7 linked regions of the Homo sapiens genome follow. The protein of the gene in region 1 purifies or fractionates together with the protein of each later gene. This does not show direct contact. Each region holds a gene or a part of one and is shown in the gene's direction. Other genes may lie near its edges.

What was found.
Region 2: the proteins of SLC6A15 (region 1) and AGPAT3 purify together in Homo sapiens (affinity purification with mass spectrometry; 3 studies listed by BioGRID and IntAct, with this or other methods). This does not show direct contact.
Region 3: the proteins of SLC6A15 (region 1) and TMTC4 purify together in Homo sapiens (affinity purification with mass spectrometry; 2 studies listed by BioGRID and IntAct, with this or other methods). This does not show direct contact.
Region 4: the proteins of SLC6A15 (region 1) and TEX2 purify together in Homo sapiens (affinity purification with mass spectrometry; 3 studies listed by BioGRID and IntAct, with this or other methods). This does not show direct contact.
Region 5: the proteins of SLC6A15 (region 1) and ACSL4 purify together in Homo sapiens (affinity purification with mass spectrometry; 3 studies listed by BioGRID and IntAct, with this or other methods). This does not show direct contact.
Region 6: the proteins of SLC6A15 (region 1) and IQGAP3 purify together in Homo sapiens (affinity purification with mass spectrometry; one large-scale study listed by BioGRID and IntAct). This does not show direct contact.
Region 7: the proteins of SLC6A15 (region 1) and SEC62 purify together in Homo sapiens (affinity purification with mass spectrometry; 2 studies listed by BioGRID and IntAct, with this or other methods). This does not show direct contact.

The regions. Positions count from the first base shown.
Region 1 is NC_000012.12:84,871,300-84,874,799, reverse strand, and holds part of SLC6A15 (sodium-dependent neutral amino acid transporter B(0)AT2), read left to right. Parts: intron 1-1,471; coding exon 1,472-1,713; intron 1,714-2,005; coding exon 2,006-2,198; intron 2,199-3,500.
Region 2 is NC_000021.9:43,969,723-43,973,222, forward strand, and holds part of AGPAT3 (1-acyl-sn-glycerol-3-phosphate acyltransferase gamma), read left to right. Parts: intron 1-930; coding exon 931-1,084; intron 1,085-1,665; coding exon 1,666-1,768; intron 1,769-3,500. UniProt on the Homo sapiens protein: Converts 1-acyl-sn-glycerol-3-phosphate (lysophosphatidic acid or LPA) into 1,2-diacyl-sn-glycerol-3-phosphate (phosphatidic acid or PA) by incorporating an acyl moiety at the sn-2 position of the glycerol backbone.
Region 3 is NC_000013.11:100,636,796-100,640,295, reverse strand, and holds part of TMTC4 (protein O-mannosyl-transferase TMTC4), read left to right. Parts: intron 1-1,441; coding exon of another isoform or gene 1,442-1,615; intron 1,616-2,273; coding exon 2,274-2,366; intron 2,367-2,593; coding exon 2,594-2,758; intron 2,759-3,500. UniProt on the Homo sapiens protein: Transfers mannosyl residues to the hydroxyl group of serine or threonine residues.
Region 4 is NC_000017.11:64,260,461-64,264,453, reverse strand, and holds the start of TEX2 (testis-expressed protein 2), read left to right. Parts: upstream 1-1,193; 5' UTR 1,194-1,286; exon of another isoform or gene 1,287-1,727; intron 1,728-3,993. UniProt on the Homo sapiens protein: During endoplasmic reticulum (ER) stress or when cellular ceramide levels increase, may induce contacts between the ER and medial-Golgi complex to facilitate non-vesicular transport of ceramides from the ER to the Golgi complex where they are converted to complex sphingolipids, preventing toxic ceramide accumulation.
Region 5 is NC_000023.11:109,684,758-109,688,257, reverse strand, and holds part of ACSL4 (long-chain-fatty-acid--CoA ligase 4), read left to right. Parts: intron 1-2,813; exon of another isoform or gene 2,814-2,831; intron 2,832-3,500. UniProt on the Homo sapiens protein: Catalyzes the conversion of long-chain fatty acids to their active form acyl-CoA for both synthesis of cellular lipids, and degradation via beta-oxidation. Preferentially activates arachidonate and eicosapentaenoate as substrates.
Region 6 is NC_000001.11:156,569,766-156,573,991, reverse strand, and holds the start of IQGAP3 (ras GTPase-activating-like protein IQGAP3), read left to right. Parts: upstream 1-1,426; 5' UTR 1,427-1,462; coding exon 1,463-1,499; coding exon of another isoform or gene 1,500-1,514; intron 1,515-4,226.
Region 7 is NC_000003.12:169,990,807-169,994,306, forward strand, and holds part of SEC62 (translocation protein SEC62), read left to right. Parts: intron 1-1,787; coding exon 1,788-2,257; 3' UTR 2,258-3,500. UniProt on the Homo sapiens protein: Mediates post-translational transport of precursor polypeptides across endoplasmic reticulum (ER). Proposed to act as a targeting receptor for small presecretory proteins containing short and apolar signal peptides.

The DNA.
Region 1 (3,500 bases):
AGTTCAGAAACTGGGCTGCTGGTAATGTCTTTAGTTAATAGGTCTTTTCTGCCATCTAGTGGCTAAAGCAGAGATAGACAGTTGAGTGTATTTTAATAGAATATGATGTAGCAATGGTCAGTAAACAATGTGCATATGTTAATTGTTCATAAATTATGAAGATAATCATGATTATGTTTAATAAGCATATTTCATAGATTTTAATAACCAAAATTAGTTGAAGCAATACATCCTATTGTTTGAGAGAATATGGATTTTGGAATCTACCTATGTTCTTATTTCATCTCTACCTCAGAGCTGCTGTGTAAACTTAGGCAAGTTACATAACCTTCCTAAGAATCAGTTAATAGTGGCAACAACTTCGTGGGTTGTTGTGAGTACTAAATGAGTTAAACCATATAAAATGCTTACCGGTGTGTATGCCGCTATAGCTCATCTATGTTATCGGTTACTGAGCATTTTTAGAGTGTGGTAGGCACCGTGGTAAGTGGTACACTTCTTATTATTCTGATCTTTCTGAAGAAGCTGAAACTCAGAGAGGACACGCCATTTGCCATTGTTTGCACTATTTTAAAATTACTAAATGGCAGAATCAGAATCTGAAACTCTCTGTAGAATTCGTGTTCTTAGTCATGTTTGACATTGCTCTCAATAAAGGCAATTTGATTGTAATGGCAAAAAGAGATAAAATGCCAATTTAAACGCTATTATTACTGAAATCAAAAGGAACTGTTTATTAAGATCTGGGCCACACTTGGCTGATCTGAATTGTTTCATTTAAGTTTTGATTATATACAGTGATAATTATCTAAGACATAAAGCACAACTACATGAAATATCTGTTCAATATTTAATATCTGTTCAATGTCAGAACTTTGGATCTGAAAGAGTATCTTATAGACAATATAGGTGAATTTCTTCAATTTTCAAAGAAAAATCTTTTAGCAGACTTTTGAATGAATGAAGAATACATATGTGAATATGCAAAGTACAAATAGTTCAACTCTGCGAAGTTTATAATTGTTTTCTGCTTCGACCATTAGATTAACAGCAGAAAACACAAAACATGGAGTGTTAGTGAAGCAACTATTAACTTTTATTGGTAATTGACCTGTTTTGCTATGGAAAGAAAAAAAGACATAATGGGAAATGATTGAGGATAATTAATTTTTCTTCATATTCTCATTTCATATTTCCTTTGATATTCTTAAAATATTTAAAAACCACCATGTAAGTAGAAAATCCCCATGTACTTAAAATCTCCATGTAAAGGACTGATCAACTTTCTTACTCATAATTATTTGTTTCCTAAAAATAGATGTTTATGCTTAAGAACATATTATTTCCCGATTTAAATAAACTTTGGATGCATAAATATCATTGTATACTCCATAAACAGTAAATTCCATAAAAATTAATTATTCTGAAACATTATTTTGTAGCTGATTCTATTATGTTTATTTTTAAACAGCTTGAAATAATGCTGGAGCCCAAGGTCTGGAGAGAAGCTGCTACTCAAGTGTTCTTTGCCTTAGGTCTGGGATTTGGTGGTGTCATTGCCTTTTCAAGCTACAACAAGAGAGACAACAACTGCCACTTTGATGCTGTCCTGGTGTCCTTCATCAATTTTTTCACTTCTGTCCTGGCAACATTGGTGGTGTTTGCAGTTCTGGGCTTCAAAGCAAATGTCATAAATGAGAAATGCATTACACAGTATGAATATTAATTTCCATTTGCCTTTTTTCTTAGTTTTTATCTTGTTATTTATACTTTTATTGATACATGATAGCTATACATATTTATGAGATACATGTGATAGTTCGACACAAACATACAATGTATAATGGTCAAATCTGGGTAAATGGGATAGTCATCACCTCAAACATTAATCATTTCTTTGTGTTGGGAACATTGCTCATTCATTAGCTTATAATGGCATAGTCGTTCACAAACTATACACCAAAGAACTCTTATGTGCTCATTTGTATGTTGTTTTATTTTTCAGAAATTCAGAGACGATCATGAAATTTTTGAAAATGGGGAACATTAGTCAGGATATTATTCCCCATCATATCAACCTTTCAACTGTTACTGCAGAAGATTATCATTTAGTTTATGACATCATTCAAAAAGTGAAAGAAGAAGAGTTTCCTGCTCTTCATCTCAATTCCTGTAAAATTGAAGAAGAGCTAAATAAAGTTAGTAAGCCATGTTTGAGCAATAAAATAATTATCATTCACTTGAAATATGCATTATCCAGCAGACTCCCTTCAGGAAAAGGGCCTTAAAATGCCCGAAGAAGCTCTTAAAATGCCCGGAGAAGCTCCTGGGCATTATAAGTCCTTCAGAATTTACATTCTTAATTTTAGAGAATATGTTTTCTTAAATGGTAAAGATTTGCTTTATTTTAAAAAGTTATTTCATTGATTGAGCCACAATAATTTAAAATATGAATATAAAGTGATTTTCATCATAGAATGATGATTAGTCTGAAATCTTTCTTGCTATAATTTTCAATACAGAATTAGAATTATGGCTCTCATTTACACATACATGATTGCTTTGATGCATGAATAATATTTAAAATAGAAATTTTAATAGTTGTGTTCCACAAGTCATGATCAAGTTCTTTTTTTTTTTTTTGAGCCGTAGTCTCTCTCTGTCGCCCAGGCCGGGGTGCAGTGGTGCGATCTTGGCTCACTGCATCCTCTGCTTCCCAGGTTCAAGCAATTCTCCTGGTCAGCCTCCCAAGTAGCTGGGATTACAGGCACATACCACCACACCTGGCTAATTTTTGTAATTTTAGTAGAGACGGGAGAAGGCGGTTCACCATTTTGGCCAGGCTGGTCTCGAACACTTGACCTCATGATCTGCCCGCCTTGGCCTCCCAAAGTGCTGTGATTACAGGCCTCAGCCACCGTGCCCAACCGATGAAGTTCTTTTTCTTAGCTATGTTGTATTAAATAAGAAATAGGTCACCATTAATAAATGTCCTTATATTGGCTGCCACTGTCTCCTGTATGTCGAAAAGGAAAATATAATGGAGAAATTAGTCACTAATTATTTGCTTTAAGATAGTTAACTGTACTTGAGACTAACATAAAGAATCATGTGTGGATATTATTCATTAAAAAGTAAAGCCATCATTAATATAAAAACCTTGAATTCCTTAAGGAAATATTTAATTAATTACTAATGTACCGTTCAAAGTTTTTTTTTTTAATTCTCATCTGTCTTTATGAGACAACACAACTTGAAGTTTGGTTATAGGTACAGTTAGTTAGACAAAGTAAGTTGTTATTTTACAACTCAATATTTGTGATATTTATAAAATAAACTCACATTAATATTTGCAAGTAATTCAATTTCTTTCTGCCCAATTGGAGTATCTGTCTTTTTATTCATTTTGTTATTAGTTTTGACTGGAAATTCATTGTGTCTTCTGAATTATGCAAACCAGTATATCAGCCCAACTTTTTTTTTTTTTTTAATCAGGGAGG
Region 2 (3,500 bases), on another chromosome or scaffold:
AGTCTCGCTCTGTCGCCCAGGCTGGAGTGCAGTGGTGCAATCTCGGGTCACTGCAACCACCACCTCCCAGATTTAAGCGATTCTCCTGCTTCAGGCTCCCAAGTAGCTGACATTACAGGTGCGTGCCACCACACCTGGCTAATTTTTTGTATTTTTAGTAGAGATGGGGTTTCACCATGTTGGCCAGGCTGGTCTCAAACTCCTGACCTCAGGTGATCCGCCCACCTTGACCTCCCAAAGTGCTGGGATTATAGGCATGAGCCAGCTTGCCAGCCTGCTGTTAGCATTTCTTTTTTTTTGTTTTGAGACAGAGCCTTAGTCTGTCACCCAGGCTAGAGTGCAGTGGCATGATCTCAGCTCACTGCAACCTCTGCCTCCCGGGTTCCAGCAGTTCTCCTCTCTCAGCCTCCAAGTTGCTGGGATTACAGGCACTCACCACCACGACTGGCTAATTTTTGTATTTTCAGTAGAGACGGGGTTTCACCATGTTGGCCAGGCTGGTCTTGAACTCCTGACCTCATGATCCACCCGCCTCGGCCTCCTAAAGTGCTGGGATTACAGGGGTGAGCCACCACGCCCGGCCTGCTGTTAACATTTCTAACTCATGCTGTGGCAAGTCGATGAAACCCTCTCTGTTTTCACACTGCTCAGAGGCTGCTGCCCCAACACACCTTCATGTTTCACTTCTTTCTGGAAAGTTCTTTCTGGAGAGCTCTCCTGTGTGAATGAACGTGTGTGACTGGAGTGCAGACTGTGGCCCTAGAATAAAAGAACCTTTCAGTCATAACCCATGCTGCTCGCTAAAGCGGTTCCAAGATTTCCACAAATTCAGCCACAACCTTTGCTGCCTGTCAGAGAGGCAGGCCTGGCCTGGACATGCACCCACCCCAGCTGCTCTGTGGAGTGACCCTGTCTCCGTGTTGATCCTAGTTTCTCCTGTACTGCGAGGGGACGCGCTTCACGGAGACCAAGCACCGCGTTAGCATGGAGGTGGCGGCTGCTAAGGGGCTTCCTGTCCTCAAGTACCACCTGCTGCCGCGGACCAAGGGCTTCACCACCGCAGTCAAGTGCCTCCGGGGGACAGGTAGGCCCCAGACTGCCCGAGCCGGGGCCACCGCTATGCTCACGGAAAATAGTGATTTCTTTAAAAAAAAAAAAAATGAGTGCATTCCATGTGAAACACAGAAGAACAGAAGTGCAAAAGGAATCAAGTGAGGGGGTCGGCGCCGCAAGGTTCCCGCGTCAGGTTTTGAGGTGATAAAATGCTAATTCATGAGAAACAATTAAAATAATAAAAAATACATAATGCAAAACCTTATGAAGGGAAAATAATCATTATTGTATCTTATTAATCCAAAAGGAGTCAAAATAAAAGAAAGGGACAAAGAACAGAAAACAGCCAGACAGCAGGGTCACACTCACAGCGTCAGTACCCATGGGAAACGTCAGCCACTAAATGCCCTCACCAACAGAGAATGGGGAAAAAAGAGGGGGAAAGAAAACTTAGAGAAGAGGTCCTGGTGTGTTCTCCCCAGGACGGGGCCAGACCCCTCACGCGTTCTCCCCAGGACGGGGCCGGGTCCCAGGTGGAACTTGCTTTTCCCTCTGGCAGTGACCATGCAGCCGCCTGGGCTGGGTCATTCACCCTCCCGTCTCCTCCCACAGTCGCAGCTGTCTATGATGTAACCCTGAACTTCAGAGGAAACAAGAACCCGTCCCTGCTGGGGATCCTCTACGGGAAGAAGTACGAGGCGGACATGTGCGTGAGGTGAGGCCAGACCCTGTGGCTCTCGCGCCGCCCCCCATACCTTCATGAGCTTGCGCTGGGCAGAGGCCAGGAGGGTGGCTGGGTCCAGGCCCCACGTCCCACAGCCCCGCAGGGTGGAACTCACACGGAAGGCCTGTCTGCAGCCCTGCCCTGCTGAGCAGACACAGGAGAGGCCCTGCAGGACTCGTCCGGGGCTTGGGTTGCAGGCCACGGAGAGGACATGGAGACACGGGGGATGTGTGGGGAGACTCACCATTGCCCACGGTGTGTTTCATTCCTTTGGGGAAATCATTGACCTGGCTTTCGAGGCCACCTCCATCCTCTCCTTCTGCCTCCTTGGGAAGCCCCTGTAGTTCCCTCTGTAAGATGCTCTGTCCCTTTGTGGGCTTTGTCTCAAACCCCACTGGGCTCCATAAGTCTCCTGGGGCCCACAGTCACACGACCTGGGGGGCATACGGTGCTGACTTCTCACCGAGGGGTGAAACCCAGGCAGGTCTCTTGGTGGGCAGGACGGGACCACCTGCGGAGCCCCTGGCCTGAAGCAGCGCTGGTGATGGGAGTGGCTTTCTGCTGGCCCTGGTGATGGCAGCCGCAGCACGCGAGGGACCGCAGTGTCTGAAGGAGACAGTGGTGAAGGGAAAGGAAGAGCCTGTTTGATTTTTTTTTTTCTTGGAGACGGAGTTTCACCCCATCGCCCAGGCTGGCATGCAGTGGCTCAATCTTGGCTCACTGCAACCTCCGCCTCCCCGGTTCAAGCAATTCTCCTGTCTCAGCCTCCTGAGTAGCTGGGATTACAGGTGCCCACTACCTCGCCTGGCTAATTTCATATTTTTTTAGTAGAGACAGGGTTTTACCATATTGTCCAGGCTGGACTCGAACTCCTGACCTCAAGTGATCTGCCTGCCTCGGCCTCCCAAAGTGCTGGGATTACAGGTGTGAGCCACCACGTTGGGCCGAAGAGCCTTTTTCAAACCCTGTCTTGAGAGTTGGGGCTTCAGTGCTATGGGGCCCCAGTCCTGTCCCAATGAAATAAAATGGGAGTGGCGTGTCTAGACCCCAGGAGGAGCCTGGGGCTTGCTCTGCAGGGTACCAGCGGCTTTCCTTGGGGCAGTGTGTCTCTTTCCCCACACAGTCAGGGCTGTGGGTGCCGCCACCAATCCGTTGCTGCCCTTGGACTCTCCAAGCTTCTCTGGCTCACATAGAGGAGAAAATCCACCCAGAAATCCTGTTGACTTAAAACACAGGCTGGGGTTGTGACCTTGATTCCAGCACAAATCATCATTTCAGGCAGGCCTTTGAGGCACGAAGAAACCGTGCGCTGGATGGCCCTTGTTGAGCTTGTCAGTCTCTGGTTTCATTCAAGTGTGTGCGGAAAGGCAGGGCCCTCCTTGCCACATGTAAAGCTGCACAGAGCGGTCACTATATGTGTTTCCATATTTGCAATCCAACCACCACCAACTGAGTGTGCGTCCTGATCAGCCGAGCCTGCCCACGGTGGCCACAGGCCCTCTACATTCTAATCTCGAGAGCCTGAGCATGTACAAATTAAACGAAGCAAAACGACACCACCCAGTTCTGGCCGTACTATAGGAGGTTTCCAGGAAGGGTTTGTGAACATAAACATAAGCTAGGTAACACTCCTTTCTGAAGTTCAAGGACTGGCTGATTAGAGGCGGAGGCGTTCTTCTCCCGACCCGGGGTCAGTGGGGCCACGAGCTGAGAGTTCTCTCCC
Region 3 (3,500 bases), on another chromosome or scaffold:
GTTCTGGGTTTGTGGGATGTTTAGTGGCGTCCCTGGTCTCCACCTACTAGATGCCAGTGGGACCTCTCAATTGTGACAACCTAAAATGTCTCCAGACAGTGCCAAACACCCCCCTGGAGGGCAAAATCGTCCCTGAGAACTGCTGGTTTTAGAACCTTTCCCTAATACGAAGTGTGGTTTGAGGACCAGGAGCATCAGCAATATCTGGGAGAGGGTTAGGAATTCAGGATCCCAGGCCCCACCCCCTCCCCAGGCCTGCTGAGTCGGAATTTCCATCTACAAGGTCCTCGGGAGGCTCCTCTGTGCAGTACTTTATTTTTTATTTTATTTTATTTTATTTTATTTTTATTTTTATTCGAGACGGTTTCTCTCTTGTCGCTCTGGCTGGAGTGCAGTGGTGCAATCTCAGCTTACTACGACCTCCACCTCCCAGGTTCAAGCAATTCTCCTGCCTCAGCCTCCCGAGTAGCTGGGATTACAGGCACATGCCACCACGTCCAGCTAATTTTTGTATTTTTAGTAGAGACAGGGTTTTACCATGTTGGCCAGGCTGGTCTCGAACTCCTGACCTCAGGTGATCCACCCACCTCAGCCTCCCAAAGTGCTGGGATTACAGGCGTGAGCCACCACGCCAGGCCTCCTCTGTGCCGTTTTTCAGGAGCAGGAGAGAGTTCGGTTGAATTTACATGAATAAAGATACAGTGAAAGGTAGCTATTCTCAAAAATTGGATTAAAATGGGGCCATTTTGATGATGCATTTAAGAAGGAAGGGGGCAGTCTTGTGTTTGGCTCAGGCCTCTTCACCACATGAACCTGCCACCCCTTGGTAACTGTCCTGCAGCTCACAGGAAAACTGTGAGAAGACAATGGCTGCTACGCAGGGAGCATCTGCCTTCTAGAAAGTGGTTTTCAACCAGGCAGAAACGGTCTTCTGTGACCCACTAAGATCATGTCTCACATGGGTGAATAAAATCAGAATTCTTTGAACTGATTAACCCAGCACTGGCCCATGTATTAGATAATTAGTGGCTCCCAGCATTTCTGGGAGAGGGTTAAGTAGGGATGTCATCCTTGCTCTGAAAACCACAAATTACCACTGACTTCTGATGATGTGTGATCTCCTTTGCCGCAAAGAAGATCATATTAAAGAGACCCAAGTCATTTAGGGGCAGCTTTAACAATATCCACTGAGTATGTGCAGACTGCTTTATCCAGATTGGGCAGGGAGTTCTGTCGATGACACTGCCTGCAGCAGTGACATTTATAGAAAGTCCATGGCAGGAGAGAGAATAGAATCCAGGGCCCATCTCTCCTTTCGCCTGTAACTACAGGTTTAATTTTACCGGCTAGAAAGTAACTATCGTGGTGCTATTGGAAACTGTTAACATAGGTGGACTGCTAATTGAAGTTATTTGTTGTTCCCCTCATGGGTCATGGACAGAGCTGTAAATTGATAGAGGTGGCCGTCCTCCACACCACGGCCCTGCCTGGCAAAGGCCTGCTCTCATCAATGTGTGGTTTCCAAAGTCACCCTGTCCATCTCCATTCCAGCCAGCTGGAAGGGGAAACCAAGTGGGAATGTGTGCCCAAGTTTTACAACCAAACATCCAAAATGGTACGTGTCGCTTCTCCCACATTCCATAAGGCTAGAACTCAGCCCCGCAACCTAGTTTAACTGCAGGGGAGGCTGGGAGATGTCATCTAGTTGTAACCCAGCGAGAAAACTACTGGACAACTAGATTTCTGCACAAGAGATCTCCAGAGCTCCATTAGAGATTATCATGTGTGTTCATCCCATTTCTAAAGATGCCAAAGTGCACTGGCACTTAAGGTTCACTTACATGGCTGGGTTTTTGAGGTTGATGGCTGCCTTTATCTTCCAGTATGATTACTGCCCAGGAAAACACTCTGTTGCATGAACTAAAGGACTGTTTTATAGTGACCAAAAAAAGTGGGGAGGGGGTATCTCTCGAGGGCTTTTCCTAGGAATCCCAAATTTCTAGCTATCCTGAATCTTGTAGAACTCCTACACGCAGACTGTGAAATCATTACTATCAGGGGCTTACTAAATAATAAATATGATCTATTACCTTGAGCTAATTTCATAGAAACGTACGGCTGTTATGTGTTTTTTTAAAGAGCTGCAGAGGTCTTCCGTGATTCTCTAGTCTATGTGTTCCTTGTCTAGATTGAGTAATGAAATTGTGAAGTGTAATTGCTGCCTAACACAGCCAAGCTCTCCCGTGGCTGATTGTCTTGCTTTGCTTTCTTAGGGTTTAAATGCGGTATTTGACATCTTGGTGATAGGCAAATTCAATGTTCTGGAAATTGTCCAGAAGGTACTACATAAGGACAAGTCATTAGAGGTGAGTCTGTACTTTTATCTCCAGCCCAGACATGGAAAATGTCAAGTACCAGCTGATTTAAAATGCCATTCTCAAATATTCCTTGTGATTTTGAATTCTACAATAACCAGCCTTTTAAAGCACAGTGTTGAAGCAGTTCAGGCAGAATTGCTGCACATCTGTACCTGGCTCAGCCACACTTTTATGTGAAAATCAGCCACCTCTGGGGCTTTGCGATGTCCTTGCAGAATCTCGGCATGCTCAGGAACGGGGGCCTCCTCTTCAGAATGACCCTGCTCACCTCTGGAGGGGCTGGGATGCTCTACGTGCGCTGGAGGATCATGGGCACGGGCCCGCCGGCCTTCACCGAGGTGGACAACCCGGCCTCCTTTGCTGACAGCATGCTGGTGAGGGTGAGTTCTGAGCCTGCCGCCCCCTGGACTCTTTTCTTCCCCCACCAGATTCCCAGATCCCTCACCCCTCCTCCTCGTCTCACTCCTCTGCACGCCAACAAAATCCCCAATACACGCGCCACCTCCATGTTTGCTTGCGATCACTAAAGATGTTCTGGGATGAAAGCAGGTCTTCCTGAGGGGGTTGAAAGGGCATGCAGAAGCTCCTTGCATTTCCGTTCTAACAAGGAGTAAAGAGGGTGGTTCCTTCTCACATCAGGGTCCTTGCCAGTCCCGTGAAAGGGCTCCCTAACCCTGTGGCTGGGTTAAGGCTAAATATAACCTTCTTGGTGGTATCTTTAGAAGACTAGTGGTGTCAAGACTATTCTTTTAGATTTGCCTTTTTTCTAAAGGCAAGGGTATCAAGCCACAGATTCTTAGCTGTGCATTTCATAGAGACCAAAATCAAGAGAACAGCCATCGAAGCCTGTTATGTTATTGGGTGTATAGGTGACCCTGGGTCCTCAGATTTAGAGGTCACAGGCTTCAGGCAGCAAATAGATCATAGCTTTGCCAGAAATATAACGAATGTATTGCATAGTCTGATGGCTTTGCCATATTTTTATATACCAAAATCTGAATACATTTAATACATTTTTACAGACTATAGTCACATACCCAATACACGTTGGCAACATTTTATTTGATACAACTGCTTTCATTGAGCAGAAGCATATGAGTGCCTCCAAAGTGAAGTTAGTGC
Region 4 (3,993 bases), on another chromosome or scaffold:
GGACCCACTAATGCAGGAGACACACTGACACATCTGTTTGTTGTCTTGGTCCTTTCTTGTGGTGGGTGGGAAGTGCAGAGGGGCAAGGACTACGGGGGAAGGGGGAACTCTCCCTATGTGCCAGTGCTTCTGCCAGCCAACCCAGGTTCGCAGAAGATAAATGCACAATGGGCATTGCCATCCCAGGAAGCTCATTCTAAGTGAGAATTTACCTCGAGAAGTCACTTTACCTCTCTGAGCCTCAGATATTGCCTCTCTAAAAATGAGTAGTTAATACTATATAAGTTCTAAGCTCTAAGAACTCGTGGCCAGGCGCGGTGGCTCACGCCTGTAATCCCAGTACTTTGGGAGGCTGGGTCCGGCGGATCACGAGGTCAAGAGACCGAGACCATCCTGGCCAACATGGTGAAACCCCGTCTCTACTAAAAATACAAAAATTAGCTGGGCATGGTGGCACGCGCCTGTAATCCCAGCTACTCGGAAGGCTGAGGCAGGAGAATCGCTTTAACCCAGGAGGCGGAGGTTGCAGTGAGCCCAGATGACGGCACTGCACTCCAGCCTGGCGACAGAGCGAGACTCCGTCTCAAACAAAAAAACTAGTAACAGAGTTAGTTCAGGATAGGATGTGGTAGTGTGGTAGTCAGGTGGGGGAAGTACATAATGCGGGAAACTGGGAATTTGCCTTTTTAAATCAATGTCTGCAGTTGGATGGGGATAGATACGTCTGATGGCCCTCTAAAATGCAAATCGAGTGAATTTGCCCAGGGGGATACCCCTGGTTCTCCGCGCCTCAGTCACCCCACCTCAACCCCCAGCCCTCGTCTCAAGGGCACTTGTTGCTGCTAGACTGCAGGAAGAGGAAATTAAGAAGTGCAAAGAGCTGGGGACAGTGTGCAGCCCCGTTGGGAGAGTGAAGCTTTTGTCCCCCTCACCTGGGGCTCTTCCAGGTAACCCTCCCCACCACTCCTCTCCCTAGCTCCAAGGGCGGTGGCCCCTTTAACAGACCTGACAAATCGCTCCCCCATTTCCGCGGCCTCACCTCGGCGCGCGGTAGAACTGGATTGGTTGGGCCTGGCGTGCCGTTTGCTCCGCCCCCGCGCCCTCTGGTTGGCGGCGGCGGCCGCGGGCGCGGGGCGGGTCCGCCGGCGGGGCGGGGCGGCGTGTGCCCGGGGGCGGGCGGGCGGCAGGGCAGCAGGACCGCGGCCGGTGCCCCAGCCGAAGCCGGAGTCGCGCGGCCGGGAGCACGGGCGCCGGCATAGTACAATGAGGCAGCCAGCGGATCTTGGGTGAGCAGTCTCAGGGCCAGGCGGGGGCGGTGGAGGGAGCGCCCCGCGGATAAGGCCCGGGCTGGGCGCGGATCGACCCCGCGGGCTTCAAAGTACCGGTCGGGTCCGGCGGCCCTTGGCGTGGCGGGGCTCGGCCCCCCACCCCGCTGTCATGGTTCAGGTATTGAAGGGGACGCCCACCCGCGACACCCCCGGGCAATCCCTTCCTTCGGGGCCCCGCCGGATGGCTCGGGCTCGACTCCGGCGGGAGGAGCTGCCGGCCCCGTCCCCTCAGCCTGCGGTCCCCGGCCCCGGGCAGGGAGGCACCGTCACGCGCAAACTAGAGGAAAACGGCTTGCAATTTTATGAATGGGGCCCCGGGTTCCTGCCGCCCCCCTCACCGGCGACGCGAAATGCTTGAAAGTCGAGAACCGCAGTTACTTTTACTCGAATCTGTCAGAGGTTGTATGCGCCCCGGTGGTTTTTCTCCAACTCCTGGAGAACGCGGGTGGCGGTGGGGTGGTTTGTGTGCTTTAGCAGGGAGGCGGCGGCGTGCCGAAATCCGGGGGATCGGAAGGTTAACAAGTGACATTGGGCTGAGGCCTAGCGCCAGGTGCCTTGCGGGGAGGCGGTGTGGCCGTGGACGCCGTCGCTGCTGGCTGCTGAGCACGGAAACCATACGGTGGAACCGGAGAAGGCGGGGAACGGCTGGCCACATTGCACCACACGCTGCCTAGAGCGTACGGCTGCCATGGGAGTTGGTGCAGGGGAGTCTTCCCCTTTTGAAAACGATTTTTGGAAAACTTAGCCCCTCAGTGGGTTGATAGTTACTTAAACCATCGGTTGTTATGGTTACTGGGCGTCAAATGTAAGGGCAAAGTCTGTTTCCACCCTCGCTCTTTCTCCAGAGCTATGAAGTACTTTGTCACTGTGTTTTACAGACACTGTCCAGGGAGGACATCCTTTTTTAGAGTTGAGGGAAAATTGTGGGCTCCTTGAGGGCAGGGCTCGTGCCACGTTCACGTTTGAAGTGCCAGCGTCTTCACACCATCACCGCTCTGCACATGCATTAAAAGGAATGAGGCTTTTACATGTTTTGAGGATTCTCAGAGGATTCAGAGGAGTCATTTCAGGAGCCAGGTGTAAGCTGGAGGGGAAACAACGAGTGACTTTTATATGGAAAACAATAAGGAAAAATGGAGGGCAGGTTATCCTTGAACTCTGGAGTATGGGGAGTTTGAGGAGTCTAGGTTTGTGAGTTTTAGGGCTGGGTCACACAGAGACGCTTGTCTCATATTGGAAGAATGAAACTGCCATTTCTGTTAGCTCTTACCTAGCCCATAAACAATATTCTTTCAGATTCTCCCCAAAAATGGTAGTTGGTCTAAAGTTATGGTAAACAAGCCCCCTGAGGTGATGTGGATAGAGTGGGATTTTGCCATATCATTTCTTTCTTTTTTTTCTGGGCCCCTTTGGGAGTGTGAAGGCTTGGAGGGAGAGGATGTGGAGGGCTCTGGGTGAACTGAACTTGCTTGCATGTTTATCTCCAGTAAAAGGCACTGTGCCTGAGAGGAAGGAGATTAACAAATTGATTCAGATCAGAAGATGGTGGTAATTGAGTCTACTGACAAGCAACCGAGGGGCTGGGACAGACGAGGAGGGAGGAAAAATTCAGGAGTTTGGTTTGGGCTGATTGTTGGAGGTCTGAAGAGCAAGTTATGTCATCGTGAGAGAAGATTAGACACAGCATATACCAAACATAATGTTCATTATTAGAGGTTATGTTAGAATGCTTCTGGAGAAGAAGCAGGAAAGATTAGGCTTTTCGATAGAATAAATACGTAGCATGTTTTGGACAAAAAGCAGTTGCCTGGAGTTAAAAAAGAAATTATTTATTAAAATAATAATAATTTTGCTGTATGCCAGAAACTGCTAGACATTATAGAAATGATGGAGGGTTTTTTTGTTTTTAAAGGATGAAGAGTTTGTTTCTATATGCCATATTAGTTGCCTTTCCTTCAAGTCAAATGCTTCTGTTTTCTGGAAGGTTTTCTGAATCCCTTGAGGAAAGAGAGGGGAGAACTGCACAGTTTATTACTTAATATGAGAACAGAGCAATGGGGAAATTCTCCTCACTGTAGATTACTTTCAGTATCAAAGTGAATCTTCAAAGACCAGTTTTCTGTGTCAGGTTCAATATAAAATTATATTAATCCTCACGTCTGTTGACTGGTATCTTTTGATGGAAAGTGCCTGTTCTTTCTTTTTTTCCATTTGTCAATTCATTCATTCAGAGTTAGGAAGTTCATTAAACACACACTGTCTCTTGTTCTCTAGGTGTTTCTAGTTCATTTTCTTTGCCTGAATATCCCTCAGGGTCTGCTTTCTTCTGTCTGATCCTTATCTCCTGAAGGTCTCCTTGGGAATTGCTGAGGTCACAGGGAATGCTTATTCTTTGATTCTGTCCCAAGGCAGAAGACTAGTATAGAAAAGAGAGCAGTGTTGAGTTCCAACTCAGCCAGGTACTGTTTTCTGCCCCTTATGTATATATCCTCTCCAGTCCTAGAGCAGCCCTCTAATGGAGGTGTGATAGCCTCATTTTACAGAAGAGGAAACCGAGGCTCAGAGCAAAGTAGTAACTTGCCCAAGGTGACAAGCTGGTTAGATGGTGGAGCAAGAATGTCAGTCTAGGACATTGATTCAAAAAACGTGCTTTTTGGGCCAGGCA
Region 5 (3,500 bases), on another chromosome or scaffold:
GAAAACAGCATGTGGCCACAGATTTGATTAGGTGGGTAGATGTAGCAGTGAGAGTCTGTGGAAATTATCTTTGGATTGTTGCTGTTTTGTCTGCAAAATAGGTCAGCTGCTGAGAATAAGTCTGGATGAGGAATGTTGGTGGTCTGAAGAGAGTAAAGTATGAAATCCAGAGGAGTGGGCCAGTGAGTGGACTAGTGCGGTGTGGTCTCTCTGCATCAGGGAGAGTCCATTTGAGGTAGCAATCACAAGTTTAAAGTGAGACACTCAACACAGTCATGTGTTTCTCACAGCAAATTCAGCTGCATAGGTACAGGTACAGATTAGGTGGAGAATTGGATAGGATAGAACCAGGCTGTGGTTGAGATGATTAAGTACAACCAAGTGAGACAACCAAGAGGGACTGAGTATGATTGCCTATGGAATTTAAGAGGAAGAAGACAAAGGTTTCTCACAAAAGCACTATAAAGTAGGTAATATAAGCAGTATTCCTGTTTTACAGATGAAGCCACTAATATAGAGCTTTCTTTTTTAAATCATACTTTAAATTCTGGGATACATGTGCAGAACGTGCAGGTTTGTTACATAGGTATACACGTGCCATGGTGGTTTGCTGCACCCATCAACCCATCATCTACGTTAGGTATTTCTCCTAATGCTATCCCTCCCCTAGCCCTCCATCCCCTGACAGGCCCCTGTGTGTGATGTAACCCTCCCTGTGTCCATGTTTTCTCATTGTTCAACTTCCACTTGTGAGTAAGAACATGCAGTGTTAAGTTTTCTGTTCCTGTGTTAGTTTGCTGAGAATGATGGTTTCCAGCTTCATCCATCTCCATGCAAAGGACATGAACTCATTGTTTTTTATGGCTGCATAGAACCACATTTTAAACCCAGATCTGTTAGCCTAGAAAATTTTTGTTGTTTCTCTTATGAGACATTATATTTTGCCTAATGATGGGTACGATGCTCAGCATCATACCCTTACCACCAACTCTTCTTTTTTTGAAGTGAAATGAAATGTTTAAATCTTTTTTGAAATGAATTTATCAATAGACTGAGTATAACCCCTGACAAGGAAGTATTATAGTTTAAGATGATAGGCAAAACTGGGCAGAGGCTGGCTAGTGTACTTGAAAGAGCACTGGGTGCTCGATTTGTGCTCTGCCATTCATTTGCTTCTCTGTAAGATGAGGGCTCAGACAATATCAGTGGTTCAAATATTCAGCTGAACTGGAAGTTCCAAGGAGTCCCTTCAGGGGCTGTCATAGCCTCCTCTACCAGAGCAGCTATGCTTTTTGCTTTCATCTACGCTTGTGTTTTTATATCTATATAAGATTTTATTCAAATGGATGACCCATGACCCCCTCACTACCTGCAGAAAGAATTTGAAAACCTCTAGACTAAATGATCTCTCTGGTTTCTTCTCACCTGAATGTTCTTTGAGCCTTGCCTACTGTGTGTGTGTGTGTGTGTGTGTGTGTGTGCATGCGTGTGTGTGTGTCTGTACTAAGCACTATGAGGATTACCTAGAAAGCATTTCTCTTTCTCTAAGACTTAAGGCAAATATGTATAAAAGATTAAATTTATGTAACATCAATAACTAAAAAACATACAATGCATTTTAAATCCAACTAAAGTACAGGCTCTTCAAAAGCTATTTTCTGTTTCTTTATATATTTTCAGCCTTAAGCCTGAAGATTTCTCAATTGAGGGTAAGGTGGTACTCACCCCTTAGGGGCATTTTATAAATCTGAAGACATGCTTTTATGTCTGCTAATATTGTCTCTGAGAATGTATGTATTGAAACAAGTATTTTGTTAAATTTTAAATTAGTTTCTTTATGGTACTCTTTTATATTACCAGTAAGAAATCATTTTTTAAAATGGTGTGTTGGTAGATTATGACTATCCTTTGATGTTGATGAAGAGGTATCACAAAATATTTGTCATAAGAAAGAGGTACTGGGTTTGATATGGTTGAGAACTACTGGTCCGTGTTCTATACTGTGGTACCCAGAAGTTTGGAAGTGATGGTAGTATAATCATGTATCAGATTGAGTGGTAGATATTGCTAATGATGTGTGAAATTAGAAAAAGTAAAGATTGTTCTGGACTTGGGTAGCCATGAAATCTTCAGTGGGAGGAGAGGATTGTTAGAGGGGATCTTACATTCAGCATTATGATAAACCCTTGACATGACATACCTTATCTTGAAGAAATGAATGACCAGACTTGTCCGAGAGACTAAGAAGGTACTTTCCAAGTAGGGTAAGTCATAGAATTTAAAGCTGGAAAGGCCCTAAGAATCACCTAGGCCAGACATTTTTAGTTCAGGGTTGTTGCCCTTTGAAGTTCATGGATGGATTTCAAGGAACTTGTGAATCACTTGACATTGTGTGTATCATTTAGCATGTCTTTCTGAGGGGAATTGGGTTCCTCGTTCTCATTCTCAAAAAGGCCCATCATCTCTAAGAGGTTAAGGCCTGCTGATCTAGTGTGGTCCCAGACTGAGGTAGATGGTTTGCTCAAGGTTACACAGCCAGTTAGGGGCAGAGATGAGGATTGACACCCAGTGACTTCCAGTTTCTTTCTCATTTCACTGTACTCAACTAAATTACATGAACAAAGGCACAGGCAGGATTAAGCTACCATTTTATATTAGATGGTATAAAAACAATCAACTAGCCTGGGGTCAATTGAATTAAGTCTGTCAGTCTGTTTCTACAAAAGTTGCAGAAGGATGGGCTTCAGTTTGTCTCTTCAAAGTGAACTAATATTTTGATTTTTCTGGTTGAAATATGCTACAACTCACCGAAGTAGCTTTCTCAGTTGAAGGTAAGCTCCTTAAAAAATGTTCCTATTCTTGGGCCGGGTGTGGTGGCCCCCGCCTGTAATCCCAGCACTTTGGGAGGCCATTGAGGGCAGATAGCTTGAGTCCAGGATTTTGAGAACAGCCTGAGCAACAATGGCAAAACCCCGTCTCTACAAAAAATGGAAAAAAACTAGCCAGGCATGGTGATGCACATCTGTGTTCCCAGCTACTCGGGAGGCTGAGGTGGGAGGATCTTTTGAGTCCGGGAGGCAGAGGTTGCAGTGAGCTGAGATCATGCCACTGCACTCTGGCCCGTGTGACAAAGTGAGACCTTGTCTCAAAAAAAAAAAAAAAAAAAAAAGAAAGAAAAGAAATATTACTATTCTTGAGCCTGTTTCTGCGGTTTCTTTCCAATGGCACTGTTTTTCTAACCTGCAGCAGCCCCCAGCTTTCCACATAATCCAATCAAAATTACTTTGCCTGATTTGTTAGATTTTGTAACTACCGTAGCGTATTTAGTCAAGCGTATTTAGCGTATTTAGTGTATGCTGTGCCCCAGTCAGACTAGTGTCCTTGCTATTGGTACTTCCTATTCTCCCAAAGTCCTTTCATTCCCACCTTCGTATCTTTTTTCATATGGTCCCTGAGCCTGGAATACCTTCCATTCCTCTTTCATTTCTAGATGCCCAACA
Region 6 (4,226 bases), on another chromosome or scaffold:
GCTCTAGGTATGGATTTCTGTTTTCTGTTCTTTCACATTCTCCTCTCCTACCTGCCCAAGCTATAAGCCTAGGCTGCTTGGTTGTTTGGATGGAGTGTGGGGAAAGGGTAAAAGGAGAAATACAAGATGGGGAAACCTATCAGATAATATTTTTTCAGCATAGTTGTTGGTGTCATAATTATTTTTTATTAGTTCAGGCTCTTTTTTTTTTTTTTTTTTTTTTTTTTGAGACGGCGTCTCACTCTGTCGCCCAGGCTGGAGTGCAGTGGCACAGTCTCAGCTCACTGCAACCTCTGCCTCCTGGGTTCAAGCGATTCTCCTGCCTCAGCCTCCGGAGTACCTGGGATTACAGGCATACCCCACCACGCCTGGCTAATATTTGTATTTTTACTAGAGATGGGGTTTCACCATGTTGGCCTGTCTGGTCTTGAACTCCTGACCTCAGTTAATCTGCCCGCCTCCGCCTCCCAAAGTGCTGGGATTACAGGTGTGAACCACCGTGCCTGGCCTAGTTCAGGCTCTTATTATCTCTCTTCTGTGCTACTGCAGTAGCCTTCCAACTGGTCTCTGCCCCTAGCCTCACCCCCTTCCAATCCCCTGCTATAAGATGGCTCTTTTTAAAGGACAAATCTGGCTCTGACCTATGTCTAAAGTGTTCCTTGGCTGGTGACTGCTCACCAGACCCCATGCCAGGGCCCTAGCATGGTGCCCAAGGTGCTACTGGACCTGGCCCTGTGCCTCCAGGATCCCTTCTGGCCTCTCCCTGGCTGAGCTTTGTTCTCCTCTAAAACTGAACCAAGTTTAAGTTCCCGAACTCACCTCCTCGTTCTTGCACATGCTGTCTCCACTGACTGCACTGCCTCTCTTCTTCAATCTGATGAATTCTCTTTCACTTCTCAACCCAAATCAGCTGTCACTTCCACCAGGACGTCTTCCCTGTCATTCGCTGCTCTTATTCACAGCAATGACCCCCTCCCTCTGTGCATCACCGACCTCTAATTTATTTGACTATATGTCTATCACTTGTGCCAGAACAGCAAACTCTTTTAGAGCATTCACTGCCCTCATACATCTCTGCATTCGCATCACCTAGCTTAGTGCATAGCGCCAAGTAGGCCCACAAGTTAGCCGGACTCGGGAACACATAGGAAGCAGAGTAGGGGTTAATGGGAATACTAGGTGGAGATGACAGAGGCAATGGCAGGGGCAGCAGCTAGAATAAGACTGTTAAGCAGAAAAGGAGCCTGGAAGGAACAAGACGAGGAACTGCTGTAAGGGGAGCGGTACTGCCCCGGCCTGGGGCGCCTCTTCTCCCAGCACCTGGGCGGCCCGGCTCCGCGGCCGGGAACTACAAATCCCAGGATTCTCAGCGGTGTGGACGGGAAGTGTCCTGTCTGGCGGTGCCGACGGTGAGGGGCGGTGGCCCAACGGCGGGAGATTCAAACCTGGAAGAAGGAGGAACATGGAGAGGAGAGCAGCGGGCCCAGGCTGGGCAGCCTGTGAGTGCGGAGAGGGTCAGAGAAGGGTCTCGCAGTGGTGCCGCTGGTCGGGGGCTTGGCTGTCCCGGGAGAGATTGGGGCGTGTGTCGGGCGTGAAGCCTGAGGGGCGAGGGCGGTGGGACTGCTCAGTGGGACGGGAATCCTCAGCCCGGGCGCCGTGGGCCCGAGTGGAACTGTGAGCGGCGCATTGTCCCCTGACTAATGTGCTGCGCTTTAAAGCTTACAAAGAACTTTCTTCCTATTTCCAAGTTCTGGGGTTCCGGAGTCGGGAGAATGTAGGTGATCCTAATGGCTCCTTGAAATTCAGCAGTTACTGCTGGCTACCAAACTTGCCCAGCGATGCCACCGGACAAGACGCCTCAAGGGATCTGGGGGACTCTTAGGCTTTGAGATGCCGCTTTCAGACAATGCCTGTCAAACAGGGGGTGAAATTACCCGGGAAGCTTGTTTGAGATGCAGATTCCTGGGACCTGTCCCAGAGCTTCAGTTCCAGAAGGTCTGGTTTGGGGCCCATAATCTGCATTTATAACAAGCACTGCTGTGCTTCTTCCCTCACCCCAGGTGATTGTGAGGAAGGTAGTCCCTGGGCCACATTTTCAAAGACACTGTTTTAGAGAGAGAGACTGGAGCTGGAAGGATGGGTGGGGCAGAAAGGTTCTATCTGATTTTCTGAATGAAAGGAAAACCTGCTCCTTCCACCACTCCCTTCCTTTCTATTAGGATTCAAAGAGCAAAGTCCATGTCCAGTCTTCTGTTAAAGGAAAACTAGTTCCAGACCTGAGAAGGACAGGAAAACTGTTTTTCGGTTTTTTATTTTTTTGAGACAGCATGTGTATGTACAAAATCCCTCCCATCGCCCACAGTCCTCAGTTCATAACTCTGAGATGATGTCATTCACTTACTGGTTTATTTTCCATGCTTAACAACCAACACTTGTTCCTTGTACACCCCCTTGGAGGAACTGATGGCTTTCCTGTGGTTGGCCAGTGTTTTCAAATCTGTATTTGGAGGGGTGTGTGTGTGTGTGCACGCATGTGTTTTAATTTACTTAACTGCTCATTCATATAAGCTCTGCCCTTCCCTGAATCATTGCAGAATATGCAATATAAGGAAATAGGATAACAACCGGGAATGACATTAAGTGCTGAGTCAAAGACAGATTGGCTAAGCTCTGCCTTTTTTCAAGCTCTCTGAGTTTATTTTCTTACTGTGTGTGTAGCTTTCTCTTACTCTTTCTGTTTGATTTTGTATTGTGTTTCTAAGGAGAATAGAGAGAGGGGAGAGAAGGGAGAAGGATTAAGGGAGACTGTAACTAAGGCAAATTATGATTGCTGTCTCACTTGAGGGATTCTCTATTCTTGAGTTTTGGAATCAGTACTCTGTATTTTATTTAGCTTGAAGATTCTTTTCCTCCTCGGGTGACCTATACCAAAAAGGATAGTGAAGATACCTTTGTGATCTTTTAAAATTTTCTTTGTCCTTCCACTTAATCCCAAGTGAGTGGCATGTTTCCCTCTGTTGGACTGCCTTTCCCTGTGTTCCGCCTATTTATTCCTTAAGATCTAGTTCATAGCTAGAATCCTTTGCTTCCTCTGCTGCTCCCATAGATTTTATGCATGGGCTATAATCATACTTATCATGTTAGATTAATTTATTCAGATGTTTTTCTCTTCTGATAATAATCTTTGGGCGCTGTGGTTCACGCCTGTAATCCCAGCACTTTGGGAGGCCAAGGCGGGAGGATCACTTGAGCCCAGGAGTCCAAGACCAGCCTGGGCAACATGGTGAGAACCAGTCTCAACAAAAAACGCAAGAATTAGCCAGACATGGTGGTGCGCACCTGTGGTCCCAGCTATTTGGTGGTGGGGGGGCTGAGGTGGGAAGATCACCTGAGCCCAGGAGGTCAAGGCTGCACTACTGCACTCCAGCCTGGGTGACAGAGTGACACCCTGTTTCAAAAACAAAACAAACCCACCAATATCTCTGTTGTCCAGGATGGAGTGCAGTGGCACGATCATGGCTAACCGCAGCCTAGACCTCCTGGGCTCAGGTCTAGGCCCAGTAGCTGGGAGTACAGGTTTGCACCATCACACCAGGCTAATTTGTGTATTTTTTGTCAAGACAGGGTCTCACCATGTTGCCCAGGCTGGTCTCAAACTTCTGGGCTCAAGCGATCCACCTACCTCAGCATCCAGAAGTACTGGGATTATAGGCATGAGCCACCATGCAGGCCTTTATCTCTGCATTTCTTAAGAGTAGGGGTCTGCTAGTCCAGTGCCTGGCATAAAGGAGGTATTGATGAATGAATGAATGAGTGAATGATGAATTCTGGTTGGTTCTATTACCTCACCTCTGAGAGAGTAACCAACGAGGATGACACAGGTCCAGTTCTTGGAGAACTCAGTCTAATTAGGGATAAGAAAAGGAGTTAAGTTTCAAGCCAAGGAAGGCTCTGGATGTCCCAGCTGGGAGGTACTGAGGGAAGTTCCATGAGTAGACTTGAGGAGGAAGAGGACAGGAAGATGGCTACAGAGGAAAGAGAAGTAATGCCTCCAGCACAGGAGGAGGCTGCCTATTAAAGGGTATCCTGGGAAGAGAAGGAGGGACACATGGGAGATGTTTCAGGTCTCTGAGCAGGGTTGCCTAAACAAGTCTGTTGAGAAGATGTTTCGGCTGGGCATGGTGGCGGCTCAAGCCTGTAATGCCAGCACTTTGGGAGGCCAAGGC
Region 7 (3,500 bases), on another chromosome or scaffold:
AATAAAAATTGCTATTTTTAAAAGTCAAGACAGCTATAACGATTTTCTTCCATTTATACAAAGCAAAATAATGGAAGACACATAGATTAGCTTATTTCAGGCTTTATATGAAAACAGTGACAGAATTGTCTAAAGAAAACAAAAACCAAAACTCCTGTCATAATTGATTAGTCTGTAACATTCACATAATCATCATGACCTTTTAAAAAACAGGAAAAAATCACTCAGCTCTACATAATTGGTAAATTCAGAGAAAACTAAATATTGGGGTTTGTGATAACTCATTACTACAAATTTTAAAATTCAAATTCCATTTTTCTACAGTTTTTTCATAATACAGTGTTATAAAAGAGTAAACCTTATGTATTTAAGTGATCTTGCTTTCATTAACATTGTATTTTTCCTAATATTGAGAGGATTGGTCTTTAAGCAAAAATTACATAGTTTACCTAACTAATAAAACAAAAAGGTCAGGTTCAGTGACTCACAACTGCGATCCCAACTACTCGGGAGGCTGAGGTGAGAGGATCACATAAAGCCAGGAGTTTAAGACTGGCCTGGACAACATAGCAAGAACCTGTCTATCAAAGTAGGTAGATAGGTAGAGAGAGAGGGAGGATAGATAGAGAGAGAGAGATTAGATAAATAAATGATAGATATAGACCTGTAATCCCTGCACTTTGGGAGTTTGAGCCCAGGAGTTCAAGACCAGACTGGGCAACTTGGCAAGACCCCATCTCTACAAAAAATACAAAAATTAGCGGAGCATGGTGGCACGTACCTGCTACTTGGAGGCTGAGGTGGGAGGATTGCTTGAGCCCAGGAGGTTGAGGCTGCAGCGAGTCATGATTGTGCCACTGCACTCCAGCCTGGGTGACAGAGCAAGACCTTGTCCTCAATAAATAAATAAGAAAACAAGGATTAAAAGATGGAAACTTTCTAATACTGGGGTTCCTTATCCAGGGCTAATTTATCCTTTAGGCATAGTAAACGTGTGCCTTGGACCAAGATACATATAGGGGTCCACAGAAATATTTTCATTTTTATTTCTTTTAAATCAGAAGTAGTAATGTATATACATGTATGTAATAGCAAACCTATACAGTATTTTATTCGTGTTTATACAGATGTACAGAAAATATAGTCATAAATGTATAGAAAATATAATATTTAATAGTTTTTGTGGAGTAAGTGCCTTACAAAGGCAAAAGGGCCTAGGGCCTTGGGAAGTATGATGCAGCCCTGCTTTTCCTTCTTAAAGGCTTCCTTCCTAAACACCTTTCATCTCTTTATTTTATTCTTTTCCTACACCATGATCTTATGAATACTTAAATTCCCAACTGATTGCTATGTGTATTGAAGCATAATATCACAAAGTACATAAATCAGAAGTGTATATCCATGTAAGTGTACACCCAGATGGAAAAAAGAAGTAATTTTTTTCAGTGACATTATTGCATTGTGACCTCAAGTTCAGAGCAACATTCTGTGCCCCTAGAATACCGTGATAGCTGCTAAACTAGTCAGGAATTTTTTGTTTTCAGGCATGCAGTGGTGTAATTATAGCTCACTGCAGCCTCGAGCTCCTGGGCTCAAGTGATCCTCCCAAGTAGCTTGGATTAGAGGTTTAGCCACCACGCCCAGCACTAATCAGGATTTAAATATTAATATTTAAGGTGTATGAAATGTGCAGATAATAAAACTGTTTTCCCAGCTTTTTATTAACAAATACTCCCTTCTGAGGCAGTGTTTGAATTACTCAATTAGAGAAATTTTTCTCCCCACAGCTCGATGCATTCTATTTCTCATCATTTGGCTCATAACTGGAGGAAGGCACCACTTTTGGTTCTTGCCAAATCTGACTGCTGATGTGGGCTTCATTGACTCCTTCAGGCCTCTGTACACACATGAATACAAAGGACCAAAAGCAGACTTAAAGAAAGATGAGAAGTCTGAAACCAAAAAGCAACAGAAGTCCGACAGTGAGGAAAAGTCAGACAGTGAGAAAAAGGAAGATGAGGAGGGGAAAGTAGGACCAGGAAATCATGGAACAGAAGGCTCGGGGGGAGAACGGCATTCAGACACGGACAGTGACAGGAGGGAAGATGATCGATCCCAGCACAGTAGTGGAAATGGAAATGATTTTGAAATGATAACAAAAGAGGAACTGGAACAGCAAACAGATGGGGATTGTGAAGAGGATGAGGAAGAGGAAAATGATGGAGAAACACCTAAATCTTCACATGAAAAATCATAATCTGACTAATTTTGGGACTGAATGAATAAGTACAAGAGGTTGGATTTTCTATGTTGGCTGATTACCATATTGAACACATGGCATTTGTAGCATTCTTTAAATCTATCTACTGAAATGTATTTGACATTCAAGCAGTTATATTCGGTCCTTCATTTTATAGAATATTGGCACTATTATTGGTACAGTTTAAAGCCATTAATATGTTTTATCCATTTGATAATTTTACAGTAAGTAGGTCTCATTCATTTTGACAGTTATCAAAGATGTACTTTCCACAGTTAAATTTACATTAATGGCAATTTTTGATAGTTTTATGGCTTTTTACTGTTAGACTAATCAAAAATAACTTTAAAAGGAACAAAGAAACTCCAACATTTCACATTATGCATAGTTATGTAGCCATTTCACAGTTTCTTTAAGATGTGTAAACTCATTGTCCTTGATAGTTTTTATTTTTCATTATAAAATTATACCAGGAGATTTCTTTTAAGATTCTGAGTTAGCAGAGTTCAAAACTATTTTGTGGAAACAAGCCAACTAGTAACAATGCAGCAACACTTCTGGTTTAGCTAAATTATTTTTCCAATGTAGGAAATCCACACTGATTTGTACGTCTGACTGAGAGAAAGATGGTCGTCTCCAGCAGAGAAAGTGAACAGCATTTGTTGGAAGGTGATGGCTCTCCCTCCTCCCTCCCCATTTCATTGGCGTAACGTAAAGTGTATTCTGTACATAATTTACAAATAAAACATTTTATTTTAATTGTTACTTATTATTTAGATATTTCTCAACACTTAAATTCATAAAATTAAGACCATGTAAGGGTATGTTTTTAGAGAAATGGAAGTTTGAGTAACCCACAGAACATCTGTGATCTTTCTACAGCAGCTTCAGTTTTGTGCCAACATTCCATGTATTTTGAATATGAGCAAAAACTGATCTTAAGAGCAGACTTAAAGTAGCTTTGTACGCCTTAATGTTCATTTTGATTTATTTTAAATCTTTACATTCAGAAATGAGATACTGTATTATCAGACCAGGAGGCATTGCTGTGAAAGATAATTTCCTATTCTAAAATATCAAATTTAAAATAAAGATAATGAAAGAAAACATAAGAGAACTATTGGACTCTAATTGCTTTGAACTAGTTTTGCAGTTTGACTTTACGTCTTATACATCTTAGTTACAAGTCTTTGGAAACTCTTGTTTACTTATGAGCATAATCATTCCTTGGAGTTATACT